Linked DNA regions of Homo sapiens. The protein of the gene in region 1 interacts with the protein of each later gene in a pairwise test. Each region holds a gene or a part of one and is shown in the gene's direction. Other genes may lie near its edges.

Region 1 (7,037 bases):
GTCAGCCTGGCCTCTCAGAGGTAGACGAGGGAACACTACAAAACCTGCAGTGCTCAGAGACAGAGGCTTGAGAGAGTGTGGGGAGGTGGGCAGGATGGGCCTGCCCCGAATAGCCAGGTCCACGGCCAGCAGATGGACTCGAGAGAGAGAAGCCGACACCTGTGAGAAACGCCAGATACTGTGTGTGGTGGTTGGGAGCCAGCAGGCAGCCTGGGTGTGGACAGAGCTCCATGGTCAGACAGACCAGAATGTGTGTCTCCATGTCTTGTGTCCTGCCCTCAGTCTCCTCCCTCCCGTCACAACTTCCCATGTGGTGGCAGCAGTGCCCTTGGGTGTGTGCCCCTGTAAGGAATTGCCCTGTGCCCTGAATATCATTCCCAGCGAGCATGTTCAGTTTCTAATGAAGAGTTTTCTTTGCTTTCTTTTTTTGAGATGTGGTCTCACTGTGTTGCCCAGGCTGGCGTGCAGTGGTGCAATTGTAGCTCACTGCAGCCTCAATCTCCCAGGCTCAAGCGATCATCCCACCTTAGCTTCCTGACAGCTGGGGCTACAGGCTTGCACCACCACACCTGGATAGTTTTTTTTTTGAGATGGAGTCTCGTTCTGTCACCCAGGCTGGAGTGCAGTGGCAAGATCTCGGCTCACTACAAGCTCCGCCTCCCGGGTTCACACCATTCTCCTGCAGGCGCCCACCACCACACCTGGCTAATTTTTTCTATTTTTTAGTAGAGACGGGATTTCACCATGTTAGCCAGGATGGTCTCAATCTCCTGACCTCGTGATCTGCCCACCTCCCAAAGTGCTGGGATTACTGGTGTGAGCCACTGCGCCCAGCCTTTTTTTTTTTTTTTTGACGGAGTCTCGCTCTGTCGCCCAGGCTGGAGTGCAGTGGCACGATCTTGGCTCACTGCAACCTCCGCCTCCCGGATTCCAGTGATTCTCCTGTCTCAGCCTCCCGAGTATCTGGGATTACAGGTGCGCGCCACCTCGCCTGGCTAATTTTTTGTATTTTTAGTAGAGATGGGGTTTCACCATGTTAGCCAGGCTGGTCTCAATCTCCTGACCTCGTGATCCACCCACCTTGGCCTCCCAAAGTGTTGGGATTACAGGCATGAGTCACCACGTCCGGCCATTTTTTTTTTTTTTTTTAATAGAGACAGGGTTTCACCATACTGCCCAGGCTGGTCTCTAACTCCTGGGCTCAAGCCATCCACCCACCTTGGCTTCACAAAGTGCTGGGATTATAGGCATAAGCCACTACACCCAGCCAAGTTTTCTCTTTGATATGAGTGAATTAACAGACACCTGGTTAAAGAAAATGCTTTTACCCCAGAGCTTAAGCCTCTGATGTGGAAACTATGCTTGGTACTCTGGTATGCAGTTGACTTGGCTGTGTGTGAGAAATTATTTTATTTTTACCTAGAGATTTAAAAGAACTTGTTTTTCTCTTTTTTTTTCCTTTTTTCTTTTCTTTCTTTTTTTTTTTTTTTTTTTTTTTTTTTTTTTTTTTTTGAGACAGAGTCTTGCTCTGTCACCCAGGCTGGAGTGTAGTGGCCTGATTTTGACTTATGGCAAGCTCTGCCTCCCGGGTTCAAGCCATTCTCCTGCCTCAGCCTCCGGAGTAGCTGGGACTACAGGCGCCTGCCACCACACCCGGCTAATTTTTTGTATTTTTTTTAGTAGAGATGGGGTTTCACCGTGTTAGCCAGGATGGTCTCGATCTCTTGACCTCGTGATCCGCCCGCCTCGGCCTCCCAAAGTGCTGGAATTACAGGCGTGAGCCACCGCGCCCGGCCAAGAACTTGTTTTTCTCAATACAAATGTATTGCTTAAAAGAAACCACCTTCGGCCGGGCGCAGTGGCTTGTGCCTGTGATCCCAGCACCTTTGGGAAGCTGAGGCAGGGGGATCACTTGAGGCCAGGAGTTTGAGACCAGCCAGGCCAACAGGGTGAAACCTCATCTCTACTGAAAATACAAAAATTAGCTGGGCGTGGGGGCAGGCACCTGTAATCCCAGCTACTCGCCAGGCTGAGGCAGGAGAATTGCTTGAACCTGGGAGGCAGAGGTTGCAGTGAGCCGAGATTGTGTCACTGCACTCCAGCCTGGGCAACAGAACGAGACTCTGTGTCAAAAAAATAAATAAATAATAAAATAAAAATAAATAAATAAACCACCTTCATCCCATGCAGTGCTTTCGTGTGACCAGGGCTCAAATGACATCCTGGATGTTGCAGGGTGGGCCGACGCCTGACAGGCTGCAGGAAGGAGCACTGTGGCATGGGTGCATTCTGCTTTAAAAAAAAAAAAAAAGATATAAATCAGCTGGGCGAGGTGGCTCACACCTGTAATCCCAGCACTTTGGGAGGCCGAGGCAGGCGGATCATGAGGTCAGGAGTTCGAGACCAGCCTGACCAACATGGTGAAATCCCATCTCCACTAAAAATACAAAAATTAGCCGTTCTTGGTGGCACATGCCTGTAATCCCAGCTACTCAGGAGGCTGAGGCAGGAGACTTGCTTGAACGCGGGAGGCAGAGGTTGCAGTGAGCTGAGATCACACCACTGCACTCCAGCTTGGGTGACAGAGGGAGACTCCGTCTCAAAAAAACAAAACAAAACAAAACAAAACAAAAATATATAAATCATGTAACAAATGAACCATTTTACAATTCAGGTTGGGTTTTAGTATATATATATCTCTAATATATATTTACATTCTATATAAATATATACTCTTAAGTATATATGTAATTTTATATATATATATATATATATATATATATATATATATATATACTTTTTTTTTTTTTTGAGACAGATTCTCGCTCTGTTGCCCAGGCTGGAGTACAGTGTTGTGATCTCGGCTCATTGCAACCTCCTCCTCCCAGGTTCAAGCAATTCTGCCTCAGCCTCTCAAGTAGCTGGGACTACAGGCGCCTGCCACCACACCTGGCTAATTTTCATATTTTTAGTATAGACAGGGTTTCACCATGTTGGCCAGGGTGGTCTCGAACTCCTGACCTCAAGTGATCCACCTGCCTCAGCCTCCTAAAGTGTTGGGATTACAGGCGTGAGCCACTGTGCCCGGCCATGTTTTTGTGTGTGTGTATATATATATATAATTTTTTTTTTTTGAGATGGAGTCTTGCTCAGTCGCCCAGGCTGGAGTGCAGTGGTGCGATCTCGGCTCACTGCAGCCTCCACCTCCCAGGTTCCAGTGATTCTCTGCCTCAGTCTCCCAAGTAGCTGGGACTACAGGAATGTGCCACCACACCCGGCTAATTTTTGTATTTTTAGCAGAGATGGGGTTTCGACATTTTGGCCAGGCTGGTCTCGAACTGGCCTCAAGTAATCTTCCCACCTTCGCCTCCCAAAGTGCGGGGATTACAAGTGTGAACCACCGCCTGGCCAGGTTTTAGTATATTTTTTAGGTTTTAATATATTCACTATGTTGTGCAACCATCACCACTATAATTTCCAGAACATTTTAATTACCCCAAAACTTGATACCCGTAAAGCAATTACTCCCCACTCTTTCCCCTCAGCCCCTGGCGACCACCAGTCTACTTTCTGTCTCTGTGGATTTGCCTATTCTGGATATATCGTATAAATGGAATTATGCAATATGTGGTCTTTTGTGACTCACTGCTTTTACTTTCCATGTTTTCTAAAGTCCATGTTGCAGTATGTGTTAGTACTCATCCATTTTTATGGCTGAATAATATCCCATTCTATGGATATACCACATCTTATTTATGCATTTGTCATTTTATATACTTGGCTTGTTTCTCCATTTTGGCTACTGTGAACAGCGCTGCTCTGAACATCTGTGAGCCAGTGTTTGCTTGAATGCCTGAGTTCATTTCTCTTGGGTGGATACCTAGGGGTGGAATTACTCGGGGTGTGGTAGCTCCATCTTTACCTTTCTGTGGAGCTGAAGGTTTCCACAGCAGCTGCACTATCTATATCCCCACCAGCCAGGTGGGAGTGTGTTCTGTACTTTCCTCTTTTTTGCCATGTCTTCTTGTCCTCAGGGCAAACACTGAGCATGGATGGTGCCAGCTGAGGCCAATCAGCTCACCTGCAGTGGGGGAGCCCCATGATAGAGCTTACTGCCAGCAGCTTTGCCAGTCCTGGGTGTATGAGTGGTGCTTTTTGAAATCTTGTCCCGCCCCCTCCAGCTCATTTACTTTATTCACACAGTGAGTCCGTACTCCACATTCTGGAGAAAGCTTCCCTTGTCTCCCTGTGGGGGCCTGTGAGAACCCCATCCAGACTCAGGGAGCCCAGCTCCCTCTACTCTGGTGTCTGTGGGTTAGATTCATGTCCACCTGCTGTTGGGACGGTCAGTGCCCATGAGCAGGTGAGGCCTGTGGCTGCTTGCCTCCCCATGTGCCCATATCATTCCCCATCCTGTTCTTGGGAAGCTGCATGGTCAAGACCTGAGGGCAGAAGGGACAGAAAGAGAGTAACAAGCTACAACAGCAGCCAACCCCTCACCTGGAAGGAGTAGCCTCAGACTCAGATCCACAAGTGTTTGGGAAGGGGATGTTTGTAACTGAGTGCCCATTCTCTCTCACACCCTTCCACCTGCGTGGGAGGTGACAGGTCACTCTAGGTGCCCTGTGCACAGTCCAGGCCACGGGGCAAAGCATGCTGGTGTTCAGCACCACCCAGATGTCCTCGTACTCAGAGAAGTTCCTTACTTCCAAGCATGCCTCCTTGAGTCCCAGGCTCCAGCTGGCTGATAGGTGGAGAGACCAAGGCATGAAGTGGCAGAGCCCACAGTGGGGGGAGGTGATGGATTTTCTCTAAATTAGACCTGATTAGTGCCACTCTTGAGGGAGGGAGATCGAGGAAGGATCGGCGCCTTTGGGAGTCTGCATCTGGCTCCGGGAAGTCTCAGGAAAACCCAGACCCCGAGTGGCTTTAAGGTGCAGAGGGAGAGGCAGCCTCACCTTTCCTGTCTCACACAGGCCTGGAGGGGACAGGAGGGTTGTGCAGTTATCACGTGTGACAAGTGAGGCTGAGAAACCTCACATCACACCAGAGTCCCCTTGTCCTTACTGTCACCCTGGCTTATTAGCAAATGCCTGGCCTGGGACTGGTACTTGCTGAACCCTTGGCACTGGGCCTTTCTGCTCTCCAGCTCAGGCCAGCAGCCTCCCATACAGCAGAGCAGGAACCGGGCCTGGCTGCTTCAAAGGCCTTTCGTGACCTGCAGAACTTGTCCAACTCTGCATTTTTGTCTTTAACCAGTTTGGTATGTTTCATTTCCACTCAAAAACATTCATCCCCAGAGTGCTGGCCATCAATGCATTTCTGCCATTGTGGTCATGATGTCCAAGAAGGAAATAACCCCCCAGGGGCAACTGGCAGCAGCTTCCTTTGGAGAACTGCAGCCAGTCGCTCTGAAGTGTCCTTGGCTGAAAAGTCAACATGTAGAGTCTTGGTTAAATGCTTCGTGAGTCCTTTTAGTTCCCGGTCAAGTTATTTCAGGCCACCAGGTGGCCCAGGGCAACTGCCTGTTAGAAATCTGCAAAACAGACAGAAAAAGTGACATCAGGTCAAGGACGTCTCACCATGTTGGCAAGGATGGTCTCGATCTCTTGACCTCGTGATCCGCCCCCCCCGGACTCCCCAAGTGTTGGGATTACAGGCATGAGCCACCACACCCGGCCCTCTGAGACATTTAATAAATGGATATCGGCTGGGTGCGGTGACTCACGCCTATAATCCCAGCACTTGGGGAGGCCGAGACGGGTGGATCACCTGAAGTCAGGAGTTCAAGACCAGCCCCGTGAACATGGTGAAACCCCGGCTCTACTAAGAAAAAAATACAAAATTAGCCGGGCTTGGTGGTGAATGCCTATAATCCCAGCTACTCAGGAGGCTTAGGCAGGAGAATTGCTTGAACCCAGGAGGCGGAGGTTGCGGTGAGCTGAGATTGTGCCACTTCATTCCAGCCTGGGCAACAAGAGTGAAACCCTGTCTCTAAATAAATAAAAATAAACAAACAAACAAACAAATAAATAAAGGGATATCTGGCCAGGTACGGTGGCTCACGCCTGTAATCCCAGCGCTTTGGGAGGCCGAGGTGGGCAGATCACAAGGTCAGGAGTTCAAGACCAGCCTGGCCAGCATGGTGAAACCCCATCTCTACTAAAAATACAAAAAATTAGCCAGACATGGTGGCAGGCACCTGTAATCCCAGCTACTCAGGAGGCTGAGGCAGGAGAATTGCTTGAACCCAGCAGGCGGAGGTTGCAGTGAGCTGAGATGGCGCCACTGCACTGCAGCCTGGGTGACAGAGAGAGCCTCTGTCTCAAAAAACACCAAAATAAATAAAATAAAATAAGAGGATATCTGCCTTGCACAGAATAGGGAACACAGGACAAAAGGAGAAGAATCTGAGCTCCTGTGCCGAGTGAAGCAGTGATTTACGAGGGTGCCACAAGTGTGTCCATCTCACGCTCTGCATATGATGTTAGCCATCCGGGATTCAGAGTCTAAAGGCTGTGCTGGACAGATCCATCTTTGTTCTGGAAACAATGAGATCTAGGGAGGGGACAGGAGGATTGTGCACTTATCACGTGTGAGGCTGAGAAACCTCACATCACATCACAATGAGGAAAATATTTATTTATTTATTTATTTTTGAGACGGAGTCTCGCTCTGTCGCCCAGGCTGGAGGGCAGTGGCCCAATCCCAGCTTACTGCATCCTCCACCTCACAGGTTCAAGTGATTCTCCTGCCTTAGCCTCCTGAGTAGCTGGGACTACAGGCATGCATCACCATGCCCGGCAATTTTTTTTTTTTTTTTTTTGAGACAGAGTCTCGTTCTGTCGCCCAGGCTGGAGTGCAGTGGCGTGATCTCGGCTCACTGCAAGCTCCGCCTCCCGGGTTCACACCAGTCTCCTGCCGCAGCCTCCCGAGTAGCTGGGACTACAGGCGCCCGCCACCACGCCCAGCTAATTTTTTGTATTTTTAGTAGAGACGGGGTTTCACCGTGTTAGCCAGGATGGTATCGATCTCCT
Region 2 (2,889 bases), on another chromosome or scaffold:
ACCTGGAGCGGCCGTTTTTGGAGACAGGCCTGGCAGGACCTCCTGGAGGGCTAGGTGTGGGGGTGGGAGCTGCAGTTGGGTGATTCCAGGGGCCCCGGTGTGAGTTGTGGGAGGCAAAGCCCCCTTGCTGGGGCAGGGAAGGTACAGCCTATTGGCCTGCGGGGCCTCATGAGCCCTCAACCAAGTGGGGCAAGGAGGAGGCTGTGCTTAGCACGGGCTTGGCTTTTAAAGCCAGGGGCTGGATGAGGGCATCAGCAAGGCTGGTCCAAGGTGGGGTCAGGGAAGACGTTGGGCACCAAGGTGGGGAGTGGGCGCCGGAGGTCCCGGCAGGATGGAGGGACCAGGAATGTGGGCGTCGGGGCACCAGTGGCACCACAGGAGAGGAGCCACTGACATCCTGGGCACCGCCTGCCCCCAGGTGAACACACCCGCAGCCGAGGTGCTCTACACAGTCATCCAGGACTGGGCCCAATTGGATGCGGGGAGCATGGTGCTGGACGTGTGCTGTGGCACCGGCACCATTGGCCTGGCCCTGGCCCGGGTGAGCCCTCCTGCCCTGCTGAGGGCACCCTCTCCCCACCCCAAGACCCCCATTGACCCCAGCTCAAAGTCACCACAGCTGACTCCATCATGCCCCAGGCCCAGCTCCTCTTTGCTGCCCACAGGGCCCCATGTACTCCCCTCCCTGGGTGGGGCGACACCACGCTTTCCTGTTTCAGAAGGTAAAGAGGGTCATTGGGGTCGAGCTATGCCCAGAGGCTGTGGAGGACGCCCGGGTGAACGCCCAGGACAATGGTGAGTGGCAAGGCCGTGGGTGGGGGTGGGGATGGGGGCAGCCGCCACCCCTGCTGCAAGCCTCAGCCACAGCCAGGGCTTGGGGGCTGCCCGACAGGTAGAGCAAGTGAGCAAGCTCTTTGGCTAGGGGTTCCCCAGGGCTGGCCCTGCTGGGAGGGCATGTGGCCCTCTGACAGGCCACGGTGCCATCTCTTCAGAGTTGAGTAATGTGGAGTTCCACTGCGGGAGGGCCGAGGACCTGGTGCCCACCCTGGTGAGCAGACTGGCCTCCCAGCACCTCGTGGCCATCCTGGACCCACCCCGTGCTGGCTTGCGTGAGTGGCTTTTGCTTAAGGAGGTGGCACGGGAACGAGGACACATGGGGTGGCTCACCATGTTATGCACTCTCTGGCTGTGGGGACCCAGCTGGTGTTTGCCTCCTCAGATTCCAAGGTGATCCTGGCCATCCGGAGAGCTAAGAACCTCAGGCGGCTGCTGTACGTCTCATGCAACCCCCGGGCAGCCATGGGCAACTTTGTGGAGTGAGTGTCTGCAGGGGCCTGGGTGGGGGCTAGGCCTGCTACCAAGCCCCCAGCTCCCACAGGAGCCCCTGATTAGCCTATCGGCTGACCTTAGCGCCCCCCTTTTCCCCCCACAGCCTCTGCAGAGCCCCATCTAACCGGGTGAAGGGCATTCCCTTCCGGCCGGTCAAGGCTGTGGCAGTGGACCTGTTCCCGCAGACCCCGCACTGTGAGATGCTCATCCTGTTTGAGAGGGTGGAGCACCCCAATGGCACAGGGGTCTTGGGGCCCCACAGCCCTCCAGCTCAACCCACACCAGGACCCCCAGATAACACCCTACAAGAAACTGGGACCTTCCCCTCATCCTAGGCCCAGGACCCATTATGGGGACAGGAGCTGAAGGGCTCCCAGGGCCCCAGGGGCGGGGAAGGCATGGCTTGCTGGCCAGGATATTCAGAGGTAGGCAGCCAAAGGGCACAGAACCCTGTGCCCCACCAGGATTGGCCTGCTGCTAGGGGCCAGGGGCCCTGACCAGGAAGACAGGTGGGTTCCTGTAGCCTGTTGCCCATCCCCAGGGCCTTTGTGGACTAGCCAAGGCTGTGAGGGCCAGAATAAACAACTGCTCAACAAAGGGTGTTTCTGTGATGAGAGCCAGGGGTCTGAACACAGGGCCTGGGTGCCAGGGAAAGGGCCAAACTAGGCCTAGGCAGCTCTGCAAGCCTCTCTGCATGGCTGGGGGAGTCAGGGCAGAGCTTACTTTAAAAAAGAATGTTCGATTTGATACTTAAACTTGAGGAGAGGCAGAGAGAGGTCTGGGAACTGCACCAGCTGGGGGCATGGGGTGGAGAACACTGGGCAGAGTTGGCCCCTCTGTGGCCAGCCTGGCCCTCAGCCCAGCAGAGAGGGCATCAACCAAGGAAGGGGCCATGCTGGGGTGCTGCTCAGCTGTTACAAAGGCAGGGTCCAGCCTGCAGGGAGGCCCCAGGAGGGGATCTGGCCAGTCAAGGGTCCACAGGGTGCCAGCCTCTCACCCTCAGAATAAAGACATCAGCCATTCCCTTCTGGACAGTTTGCTTTATGTGTTCAGACAATCAAGGCTCGCCTTCCAGGCACAGCCCAGTGCCCTGGATGGCATCAGCACAGGCTCCCCTGCCCCGGCCTTGAAGCATGGCTGTGTGCACGATTCATACCCATGCTTGGCAGACGGGTGGGGGGGGGGGGGGGGCGCACAGAGACCACAAGAGTATGGCAGCACCTGCTGTGGTGGTGCCTGGGAACAGCAAGACACAGCGAGGCTCCCCAACCTTTAGGGGAACACATGTGCACGAAGCTTTGGTTCACAGGCGCATCTGGCTGGCTAAGGGCAACAGTCACAGTCAAATGACTATTCACAGCTGCAGACAGGAGGCAAGACAGAAGCAAGTGTCTAATTATAGCAATTTGAGTTGAGGGTTTCTTTTTTAAAGGTCAACAGAAGCCAACCTTGGTCACACAGGTAGTGAGGGAAGGATATGTTGTGGGCGGCCCACAGGCCAACATTGTTTTCCTGACAGAAAAAAAAAAAAAAGCGCCATCAGTACCGCCTGTAGGGGGC

What was found. The genes of interacting proteins can lie anywhere in the genome.
Region 2: the proteins of ZNF837 (region 1) and TRMT2A interact in binary tests that used the Homo sapiens proteins (3 or more experiments, as listed by UniProt).

The regions. Positions count from the first base shown.
Region 1 is NC_000019.10:58,371,030-58,378,066, reverse strand, and holds part of ZNF837 (zinc finger protein 837), read left to right. Parts: exon of another isoform or gene 1-484; intron 485-3,413; exon of another isoform or gene 3,414-5,525; intron 5,526-7,037. UniProt on the Homo sapiens protein: May be involved in transcriptional regulation.
Region 2 is NC_000022.11:20,111,338-20,114,226, reverse strand, and holds the end of TRMT2A (tRNA (uracil-5-)-methyltransferase homolog A), read left to right. Parts: intron 1-418; coding exon 419-541; intron 542-665; coding exon of another isoform or gene 666-719; coding exon 720-795; intron 796-992; coding exon 993-1,109; intron 1,110-1,219; coding exon 1,220-1,316; intron 1,317-1,410; coding exon of another isoform or gene 1,411-1,432; coding exon 1,433-1,664; 3' UTR 1,665-2,352; downstream 2,353-2,889. UniProt on the Homo sapiens protein: S-adenosyl-L-methionine-dependent methyltransferase that catalyzes the formation of 5-methyl-uridine in tRNAs and some mRNAs. Mainly catalyzes the methylation of uridine at position 54 (m5U54) in cytosolic tRNAs.